3 linked regions of the Homo sapiens genome follow. The protein of the gene in region 1 interacts with the protein of each later gene in a pairwise test. Each region holds a gene or a part of one and is shown on either strand. Other genes may lie near its edges. The genes, in order: RBPMS, SPMIP6 and MLLT10.

The links.
Region 2: the proteins of RBPMS (region 1) and SPMIP6 interact in binary tests that used the Homo sapiens proteins (3 or more experiments, as listed by UniProt).
Region 3: the proteins of RBPMS (region 1) and MLLT10 interact in binary tests that used the Homo sapiens proteins (3 or more experiments, as listed by UniProt).

What each region holds. Positions count from the first base shown.
Region 1 is NC_000008.11:30,387,444-30,391,098, forward strand, and holds part of RBPMS (RNA-binding protein with multiple splicing), read left to right. Parts: intron 1-3,655.
Region 2 is NC_000009.12:34,395,566-34,399,320, forward strand, and holds the start of SPMIP6 (sperm microtubule inner protein 6), read right to left. Parts: upstream 2,246-3,755; 5' UTR 2,069-2,245; coding exon 1,934-2,068; intron 770-1,933; exon of another isoform or gene 1-769. UniProt on the Homo sapiens protein: May participate in intramanchette transport and midpiece formation of the sperm tail. May play a potential role in somatic cell proliferation.
Region 3 is NC_000010.11:21,733,156-21,736,810, reverse strand, and holds part of MLLT10 (protein AF-10), read right to left. Parts: intron 3,308-3,655; coding exon 3,219-3,307; intron 3,044-3,218; coding exon 2,682-3,043; intron 1,673-2,681; coding exon 1,576-1,672; intron 1-1,575. UniProt on the Homo sapiens protein: Probably involved in transcriptional regulation. In vitro or as fusion protein with KMT2A/MLL1 has transactivation activity. Binds to cruciform DNA.

The sequences.
Region 1 (3,655 bases):
GGTGAGTGCCATTAATGTGCCCGGCATTACACAAAACCACTGCACTGACCCTTTCCCTGCCCACCCATTGTATCAGCAACTTGCTCTTAAGCACATTTAAAAACCTTGGCGGTGGACTCCAGTAAACAGAACACACACATACAACATAGATATATACACGTAATGACGAGAGGAAAAATGTGTTTCGTTGTAATTTCTGGTAGCCATTGAACTGACATGGAAAAATGAGTCCAATCATCATTAAGGGAAAATAGTTTATTTCACAGATCATGAGGGTGGTTTGGGCTTTCTCCACATTGTAGAACCCAAGTTTGTTTTTTTCTGTGTTTCTAGTTTCGAAACGAATTCCTTCTATCAATCAGTGTATTTTAGCTTCTTTTGAGAGTTTCTAATGCTTACCCTGAAATAATTGTGCTGAAATGCCTCTTTGGTTCTAATTGTGTAGAATGAACAGTTCAGGATCTAGGAGTATTTTTGCAGCTTTTTAGGGTTGGAAGTTTTTGAGAACTTTGGCAGAACATGTATTAATACTTCTACTTTGGATAGCATTGAAAACTTTGAGGAAAAATAATTTAGGATTTGGCTAGCCAGTTGTGTAAGAGAGATGATACATTTAACTTTCCGATTTTTAATGTATTATTACATTAAATACATGTGTAATACACGTACAATGTATTATACATGTGTGTTCCCTAAGCAAGTTGTCCTGTAAAGACTAACCAGTTGTCAAAATCTCACTGAGATTTTTAAGGTTTGTTTATATATGTTTAGAGTATCATGTCATTTCTTATATTTTACAATTGATAAAATGATTCCTAGAATTTCTCTAATTGTGCAATCAAACTTTATAAAAATTGATATATAATAGATCCATAATTATTTGTCTTACCTAATCAGTTATAATTGATGAGTTTAAAGTATTTTCAAATATATCAAGACCTTTTCTGTCTTATAGCTTATAACTTATAGCTATAGCTATAAGCTAACTTATAACTTATAGCTATAGCTATAAGCTAACTTATAACTTATAGCTATAGCTATAAGCTAACTTATAACTTATAGCTATAGCTATAAGCTAACTTATAACTTATAGCTATAGCTATAAGCTAACTTATAACTTATAGCTATAGCTATAAGCTAACTTATAACTTATAGCTATAGCTATAAGCTAACTTATAACTTATAGCTATAGCTATAAAGCTAACTTATAGCTTGTAACTTATTTGTTGGTCACTGAATTTTCAAAATAGAAATTTAGATTAAATATGTGATTTGGTTTTTATTTCTACTTTTATCCATGTCATTGAGTACTTTTCAGGCTGATTGTAAAACATCTTTAAAAGGCCTTTTATTATATTGAAGCACTGGTGTTAATTTCTCCTTAAATTGCTTTGAATTGACTTGTACTTATAATAAAACTAAAAAAGCAAAAAACGTGGAAGTGTTGGAATATTGATCAAAAAGATGTGCAGAAATCATACAGTCAGTTCTTCTGAGGTTAATACAAACCTTTACTTTGCATTCCTTCTTTTAAAGTGCTAATTTTGCCAAAATATTGGGGTTGTAAAGAAAATTATTTCTTAAAATTGCTGCAGAGAGGGTAATGTCAGTTTGATGTGGCAACCTCAAATTTTCATTGAGCATTAAAGTCAATCTACATTGTGACTTCAGGAAAGTACAGAATGGTTTTATACAATTTAACCAAGATTGGGGATCTCTGTTATTCCAAGTTCAATCCAATGCAATAAACATATATTTCAGTTGTAGAATAGGATTTGGTGACAACTGATGCTCCATGACCCCTGTCAATATGGCATGCACTTTTGAGTTATTTTTCCAGTAGCGGTTTAAACATTTCCCTGATAAACCCTTGTGTGCATCTGCAGTCTTCTTCATTCCCAGTGGCATTAGTTTTCAGATGGGTAGTTTGGAAGGGGTGGAAGTTCTCTTCTGGAGATGGTTTCACATGATTTTCGTAGGTTCATGTTAATTTTTGCTTTAAGGATAAAAGTGTTCAGTGCTGGTGACAAGGCAATAAAGTGGGTACTTTTGTGCAGAGCAGTGGTGATGTAAATTAGTGTAGCTTTTCAGAAAGGAGTGACACTATCAAAATGTGTTCAGGCCCTTTGATTTAGTACCTTTATTTTTAGAAATTTACCCTAAGAAAACGGTATCATAAAGATTTATATATAGGAATGATTTTTGCAGTGACTTATGACAGTGACAATTCAGAGGCACTCTATCTAACATGGGAAACTGCTAACTAAATCATTGTATAATTCTGGAAGGGGAATATTGTGCAACCACTAAAGGCTCCGTTTTTAAAGAGAAAAATACATGGATTATAAAATATGTATTATATATAAATTCATATTTATTATGTATTATACATATGTGGTTATATACTATTCTCTGTGTTCTGGAGGTTAGAAACCTGAAGTCAAGGTGTTGGCAGGGCCACCGTGCTCTCTAAAGGCTGGAGAGGAGAACCTGTCCTTACCTCTTTGAGCTTCAGTGGCTCCAGACATTCTGAAGACTATATTTTTATTCTCATGTTGTAATATTAAATGAAAAGAACTGATTTTAAAGTTTTATGCTATGTGATGCCAGTTCTCAAATAAATGTATATTCATTCATAAAACCAAACATTAATTGTATCTAATTGGTGGATTACAGATCATTGCTATTTACTTTCTGATGCCTTTCGGTGTTTAAGTTTTCGAAAATGACCATGTGAACAAAAAGAATTAAATGTCTTTTTGCTTTGAGGGTTTCCTTGAATCGTGATATTCACAAAACCGAGGTTGGTCACATTTAGTTTTGCTCACAAGCCTAGCGGTGAGAATCAGGTCTGCCTTGTTCCTCAGACATAGTCTTTCTTAGTACTATTAGTATTTCTCTTACTCATTCCCTTATCTTGATTGTGTTAGTGATCTTCAGCTGCTCTCCTGTTCTGATGCTCTTCTGGAGTCCATCCTTACACCATACTGCTGGGCCCTCCAATGCCCCGAATCCTTCAGTGCTACTTGGTACTCCACAAAGTCAAGTGCGCACATGGCGTTCGGGATTGCCCTCACCTACCTGTATACTGTGATCCCTTTGCTAAGAGGAAGCCTAGGTCTTCCTCTTCTGTTCTCTTGATCTAGTCTGAGCTGCTTTTAAGCCAGGATTCAAGTTTTTCAGCCTACATTTTTGCAAGATCCCCCTCACCTGAATGTCCCATCCCATAGAGATGATTTTTCATTAGAATTTCAGTAAAAGTTACTTTCTGTTATGTCCATTTAACTCCTGGTTATTATTTTTTTCAGCTATTTATTTTGTATGGGTCTATGCCATTTTACAGTATTCCCAATGTTCAACACCTACCCCAGCACCAGGTAAATCTCCTCTGCACACATCCACACTTACATATATACACGTATATAATTCTTTGTAAATATATATGAAATAGCCTTATTGGTGAGGTTGGTGATTATGAGTTTGTACAGGTAATAAGAAGCAGCCACTCGTTTAATATTGAGGATCCCTTCTGTGCTCTGCACTGGGGAATTAGAAAAGGTGTGGATGGATCGGCTGGAAAATTACTTCCATCCCTTTGTCATTAGGAACCTCCATTTGCGAGCACAGGTGAGCCTGCCTGGTCCATCAAATAGCC
Region 2 (3,755 bases), on another chromosome or scaffold:
CTCTTCCTATGACTTCACCCACCATTTATATGATGATGACTTCAAGATCTCTATCTATAACCCAGACCTCTTTCCTTTGCTTCAGATAAGTATATCTAACTACTTGCCAAACATCTTTTCCTGGATATCCTCAAATATTTTTGTTCTCAAATGAACTCCAAATCTCTAATCTGTTATTCCAAACCTCAGTTGATAGCATTAGCATTCCTCCAGCTGCCACAGCCAAAAACTCAAGGGTCACCCTAATCTCTCACCTTACCATCCATATGGTGACCAAAATCTGTTCATCTACTTTTTAAAATTCCCTTCTATTGAGTATGGAGTCAGGCACTCTCATATTTTGCTTGTGGAAATGTAAATTGTTACAACCCTTACTTATTATGGCAATTTGAGGTATATAGCAAAAGTTTTAAAAATGTGTATATCTTTTCTCCTAACAATTTCATGTCTAGTAATTTATCCTAAGGGAATAATTGGAAATGTGTACAAAGATACATGTATAAGAATGATTATACTAGCAAAATTTTATAAAGTACCTAAATTTTCAATAAGATTCCTTAAATACACCATTTTGTAATAAATTTTATTTATTTTTATAATAAACAATATTTGCTTCCTGAAAGGGCATACGATAATATATTAACAATGGTAATTTTAGGTAGTAGGATTTTAGACCTTTTTTCTTTGTGCTTCTCTGAGTTATCTGCATTTTCTACATTCAGCGTATATTTATTTTGGAGTTAGACAAAATAAATTATTTTAAAAATTCTCTCCTATTCAACGAATTCCTTTTTTCATTGTGACAATCTCCTTATCTCCCACCTACATCCTCCTTCCTCATCTGTTCACCCCTCGCTGGCCTTCCTGCCCTCAACCCCAGCCCCTGCAATTCCCTGACACTGTGGCCAGAGTGGCCTAACTCACAATTGAACCATGACTCTCCCTCCCAGGTTCAAAAACCTGGAGCCTTATGTCCACGCTCCACAACATAGCCAGAGAGGCCCTTCTTGGTCTGCAGACTCCTCTCTCACCCAAGGACTAAACTCTCCTGCTCTAACAGTTTCAGTTTCTGGTAGGTCCCTGCCCACAGGCTGCCTTTTCTCCTGACTGTCTTCTGCTGGAAGCCTCCTCCTCCTGGATCCCTCAGTAGGTCTGCCCTTCAGGTTGGGCAGCGCTCTCCCCTTTCTGGCTCTCCACCTCTGCTGGTGCATGTTCCACATCGGGCAACTCTACTTTGTTCACTTGTTTGCTGTGAGCTCCTCAAAGGCAAGGGCTGGCCCTTCCCTTTTGTATCCTGGGTTGCCTACAGATGAAGATACTCAGCAAAGTTGGATGGTACACACAGATAAATTCTCTTAGGCAGAGTCACAGTTAGACTCACAGATTTCCTCCCACCTGGCCACCAATCTTCAAGCACAGACACAAGTAAACTGTGATACATATAGATAAAGGCATGCATATAGGACAGTTTCCGGCCTATTCCACAGGCAGCCTCAGGGCCTTTGCACTTTGTGATCACTTGTCTGGAACTTTCAGCTCTTCTATTCTTTCAGGTCTTCATGTGGCTAGTTCTATCTCATCTTTCCAGTCTCAGTTTATTGTCACCTTGAGAGAGGGTTTTCCATGACCTAAGTAGCCCTCCCTTTCCATTTCCACTTCCACTACTCTGTTTATTTCCTTTACAGTATTTTTGAAGAATTTATAAAACTCATGTTTATTTCTTATTATCTGCCTGTTCCTACCTCCTACCCTAATGTAATTCCATGAAGGCAGGATTTTGTGCTGTTTTACATACCATTGTAAATTCTGTGCCTAGGTAAATGAATAAAACACACACATACACAAAGCTACAAATCATTACAAACATACATTGCCAGGCATCCAGACTGGCCATACACTCTGGCCTGCCCCTCCCCACCAATCTCCCACTTACCGGAGTCAGAAACTTGTTGGCTTCCCAGGCACACAGGGGTGGGTCCTTATAGACCTCCTTGATGGAGGTGGGAGCCCTGTAGGAGTCACTGTAGGTACTGATAGGGGTCCTGGTCTTACGGGAGAACAGGAACATGGTGTGGTCTTGGAGATGCCGTGGTGGGCTCTACCTGTCAAGGGCTCCTGCTGGACATCAGTGACCACCCTTCCCCTAGACAGGCCACACCTCCAGCCTGGCAGGTGCCCTTAGCTGCTATAATCCCCTCCTGCAGAGGATCTCTCAGCTTCCTTCCCCAACAGCCTTCCTGCTCCCACCCCACACTGATGCCCCCTCCAGGATGGGCACTGCCCATTGTGATATCACCTGGCTCAGCCCCATCCCTGGGAAGGTGAGGAGGTCTAATTCCCTCCCTGCTCCTGACCCCCTCCTGCCTCAAGCCTATCAAAAGAGCCCAATTTCTAAGAGTTCAGAGGGCCTCTGGAGATCTTCTAGGTCAGGTTTCTCACTGTTGAAGAGAAACAGAGGTTCGGAGGGGTTGTGACTCACCCAGGGTCATGCAGCAGGTCAGTGGCATGCCTGGGAACCCACAGGTGGAGGTGGAGTAACATGTGTGCCCAGAGGACCAGTTCTGTCTGCTTCCCAGCCCATCTGCCCCTTGCCCACACCCCAGGGAGGGAGCTGAGGCTGGCTTGTTTGATGCTTTTAATATCATTATTTGTGTTACACGATACACAACCAAGGATGATGGTCAATACTGCAATGAAAATGTTAAAAAAAATATTATACACGGCTCATGTCTTCCACACACCTTCCTGGAAATAAATTAGTGAGCACGGAGAAACCTGGCTGGGTGGCAGCCACAGCTGAGAGAGGAGGGAGTGTTAAGGCAGTATCTACAAGGGGAAGGGTGGCAGGAGGGCAAGCTAAGGCCTAGATTCTTCCCTCCAACCTCCCAGACAGGGAAGGAGGGAGCCACACCCCTCCCTAGACACAGAAGCTGCCACTGCCAGCTTCCTGCCTCTCTCTGCCACACATGCACTGCCTCAGTTGGAAGCCCTTGCCTGCCAGGGAACTAGTATGTCCTGTGGGGGGGGAGATTTTCCCTGGTGTCTCAGGGCCACAGAGATTGAACAATGGGCCCGAGTCACACTGCAAGTCAGCAGCAAAGGCAGCAGTCTAAATGAGCCCCCAAAAAGAGGAGGTACCCATGTTCTAGAAAGGTGAGCCAAGGAGCCCCGGGGTGGTGGTGGTGGTAGTGGGAGGGCTGGCTCTGGGGTCCAGATGATGGGGGCACAGGGGTTGGGGGGATGTTGATCTGGGTGGGAGAGGTGGGTTCAGATGGGGGCCAGTATGGGCCTTGTGGGTCCTGCAGGTACCTTCTCTGTCCTTGCCTCCCTTTGTTTGGCATTTTCTCATCATCTAACTTGGGTCCCTGCACTAGAGGAGGTAGGAATGGGTTGGCGGAGTGGGGGGTGGTGAGCTGTACCCCAATATTTTGGAGCTGGCAGTTCCTGGGTATGATGCAGGGAGAGGTACCACCCTTCCTAAGCCAACAGTCTCACTCCCTCCTCTCATTGCTCCCCATTCCAGCTCCCACCTCCCAGGATTGGTGTCCAGAGAGTGGGCTGTGGGTGAGTCTACTGCATGCCTGCAGCATGTGAGTGGATCCATGGGAGTGGATCCACCAGCACATGTGGGGTGTTAGCATGAGATGATCCACCTGGGCCTGTGCTATAAGGTATGTGGGCACAGGCCTGTGCAGTCTTAGGCTATCTGTGCTTTCATTTTTCTTCACACGGTGGCAGGTCTACACTGCCCAGCC
Region 3 (3,655 bases), on another chromosome or scaffold:
CTGCCTGGGACTCCAGACACCTACTGTGCAACTGCCTTATCTCCATTTGACTTGTACATCTAAAGAGATTTCAAGCTTAGTGTGTCCATGACACCTATTTTTCTCTCCAAAATTGGTTGGGTTCTGTTCTCCCACATCTCAGTAAAAGTCACTAACCAACCATTCAGAATTCTTCTTTCTCTTGTATGTCCAGCAAACAAGTCTTGTTGGTTCTGTCTTCAAAACATCTTGGCTGGGCACAGTGGCTCACACCTGTAATTCCAGCACTTTGGAAGGCTAAGGGCAGATCACTTGAGGTCAGGAGTTCAAGACCAGCCTGGGCAACATGGTGAAACCCTGTCTCTACAAAAAATACAAAATTAGCCAGGCATGGTGGGACATGCCTGTAGTCCCAGCTACTCGGGAGGCTGAGGCAGGAGGATCACTTGAGCCCAGGAGATGGAGGTTGCAAGGAGCCCAGATTGTGCCACTGCACTCCAGCCTGGGCGACAGAGCAAAACTCCCTCTCAAAAATATACATATATATACCACAATTCCAGGCAGTTTTCAATACGTAGCCCATACTATTTTAACACCTACGTCTCCTGCCTGGATCACTCCCTTTTTCCACTTTTGCCTCTGTCTTCACTCCCCCACACCCTATAACACACACAGACTATTCTCCATATAGCAGCAAAACTAATCCTTTAAAATGTAAATCATTATTTCACTATTCTGTTCAAAACCTTCCAATTCTTAATCCTGAAAAAAATGGAGAATGAAATGAGATAAACAAAACTAAGATTATTAGCACTGGGTGAGAGAATGGAATGAGGCGTACATAGGTCTTCAGGGTGCTCTCCACTCTACTTTTGGTACACTTGAAATCCTCCGTAATAGATTTTTAAAAACTCGCCAGTGGCTTTCCATTCATACTTAAGATAAAATCCAAATTTCTTGCCACAGCCAAGAAAGGCTGTATGCGATCATCTAAGACCACCCCCTTGGCTCTGACCTCTCCCACCCTCTGACCACATGGCTGCTGACTTCTCTTCCGAACACAAGTACGTCCAGACCTTTGACAGCAGCTGCCCCTTTACCTCCAACGTGCTTTCTCTCTGCGTTCCCTCAAGTCACAAAGGCACACTCCCTGAACTCTCACATCGGTCTGTGCTCAAAAGTCACCCCCCTTGCAGAGGCGGGGCCATCCTATCTAAAATGGTCCTCGGTTCCCTATGCTCTTCCCCACTTATTCCACTTCTTTGTTCTTCTCAGTATTTATCACAACCAAAAAGCGTGCATCGTGTCCATCCATCTCCCGTATCAAAATGAAGCTCCGGGAAAACACGCACCACATCTCAGCACTGTGTTACCAGAGCCTATGGCAGCACCATGCCACGTGCCCTGTCACTTTTAAGTTCAGGAATGAATGTGACATCACTGCAGGTATCACAGCCTGTACCACATGGCAAGAAAAACTTTTTTGATTATGCATTCAATAATGTTATTTCACAAAGGAGAAATCTGTACCCACAGTGAATATTACAGCTTAGAACACATGCTCCTAATAAGATATTATCAAAAGAAAGAACTTACTGGTGTGAGCTGTTGAGAATTTAACAACTGCTGAAACTGCTGTTGATGAATAAGTATTTGTCGTTGCTGGTCAGAAAGTAATCCTAGTCCTGAGGCACTGAAAAATGATTACAATTCTTACTTTTTACTACACACCTCTAATGCATTTTTAGAAGTCTAAAAATGAAAGACAACTTTTCAATTTGATGTTTAATAACTTAAGTACAATTCTGAATCCAAACACTCTGAAAACAGTTATGTACAATTTCTATATATATGTATGTTTATATACATCCATGTGTACAGCTAAACAAGAATTCACATTGTCAAGAAATGTTTTTATTATAAAACAAATAGGCCCTAACTCATTTTATGGAATAGAAATTTACATGTGTTTCTAACAAGCGTATGTAATAATTTATCTTTAATTATTCAAGGATAATTTAACTCACACTAAGTAAACACATATTTGAAACAAAGAATCCAAACATACCACTGATTTGACCTATCCTTTTCTAATGGTCCCAATGGTAAAACTAAACACCAAGGAAGAGAGCTACAGGAAATAGCTTTCTAGTACCCACTGCAAATCCATTTAAAAGTATTTATTCCCCCAAAAGTATGCTTAATAACAACATAGCTTTAGTCCCCTAGTTTTGAACAAACATTCAAATGCAGTTCCAGTACAATGAAACCAGTGAGTCTCACTTCCTGGGAATTCAGATAAATGACCTTTATCCTATATCAAAATCTTTGATTAGAACATTAAAAATATTACATAAATTTTAGGAAACTAATATTCATGTTATCTCCACTACGATATCTTTCTTCAGAATTTATGATACAGTATACAAAGAAATAAGAAAAACTAGTATTTAAAAACAGACATCACAGATTAAGACTAATTTTCAGCACAGAACATAATGCTGTTACTAAAAGTAACTTAATTTTAATCTAAATTACTTAAGTTTCAAAAATAAATGTACTCTGTATAATATACTTAAAATTTTTGGCAGACTTCTTAAGGTGTATCTACAAAGGAACACATTGAAAGCCCCAATCTAAGGCATAGACAACACCGGTACTCTGTTATACTAAAAAACCCAAAACATACTTAAGTTTCTTACCTGTTAGTCAGTGTAGCTGGCATTGGATGTGTTGCATTAGGTGGTACGGTTGTGTGGGTGAGAGGGGTAGGGTTCTGGGACATTGTGACAGGAGTCTGCATAACCCCATTTAAAGCTCCTACAATGCCATTAATTGCCAGTTGGTTACCTGGCAAAGCTCCAATTATTCCACCCACTGCAGACACGGCAGGAATGGTGGAAGTTACAGGCTGCATTCCACTAGCTAGTGCCCCCACTGTCACGCCATTGACCTGCTGAACTCCACTCACTCCTGAGCCTTGTTGAGCCGGACTCTGCCCAGCAGGAGGTGGGGTAGAAAGAGCTGATGAGCTGCTGGTACTTTGTCCACTGGAGGTTAAGTCCTAGCGTAAGAAAGAAGAGAAACTAAGTCCACTGGACATTAAGTCCCAGCGTAAGAAAGAAGAGAAACTAAGTTTAAAGAACACTGCAAAACTGTTTAAAATAATTTTAAACCATTTAATATACTATTATTCACAAGTAAATCAACATAGATGAAAATAACCATACAAAAATTACCTGATTTAATACAGGAAGAGAATTATCAGGTAAAAAGCTGTTTCCTATATGAGGGCTCTTACTGCTGTTCAAGGAATCAGTAGTAGGAGCTAGAATAATAAAAGACAAAAAGAAACCTATTTACCCTATTAAATTACATTATGTGTAAGATTAAAGGCTTATTAAAAAGCTTATGCTGAAGCCCGTATCAAAACCACTTAAATATCTAGTCTTGCTATTCCTAAGACTGATTTAAATAAGAAAAAAAAATCTATATTGAATACCATCGCTTTAAATCAATAACGAGATCATTAGACATTTAAGTAAATTTTACCATTATATTATGGACTAAGAAAGTTAAATTCAAGTTGATCACTTAACAGGATTCTTTATGCCCTTCAAAAACAACCTATAGTTCCTTTTCTACATCTTCATATAACTGGTGACCAATTATTACT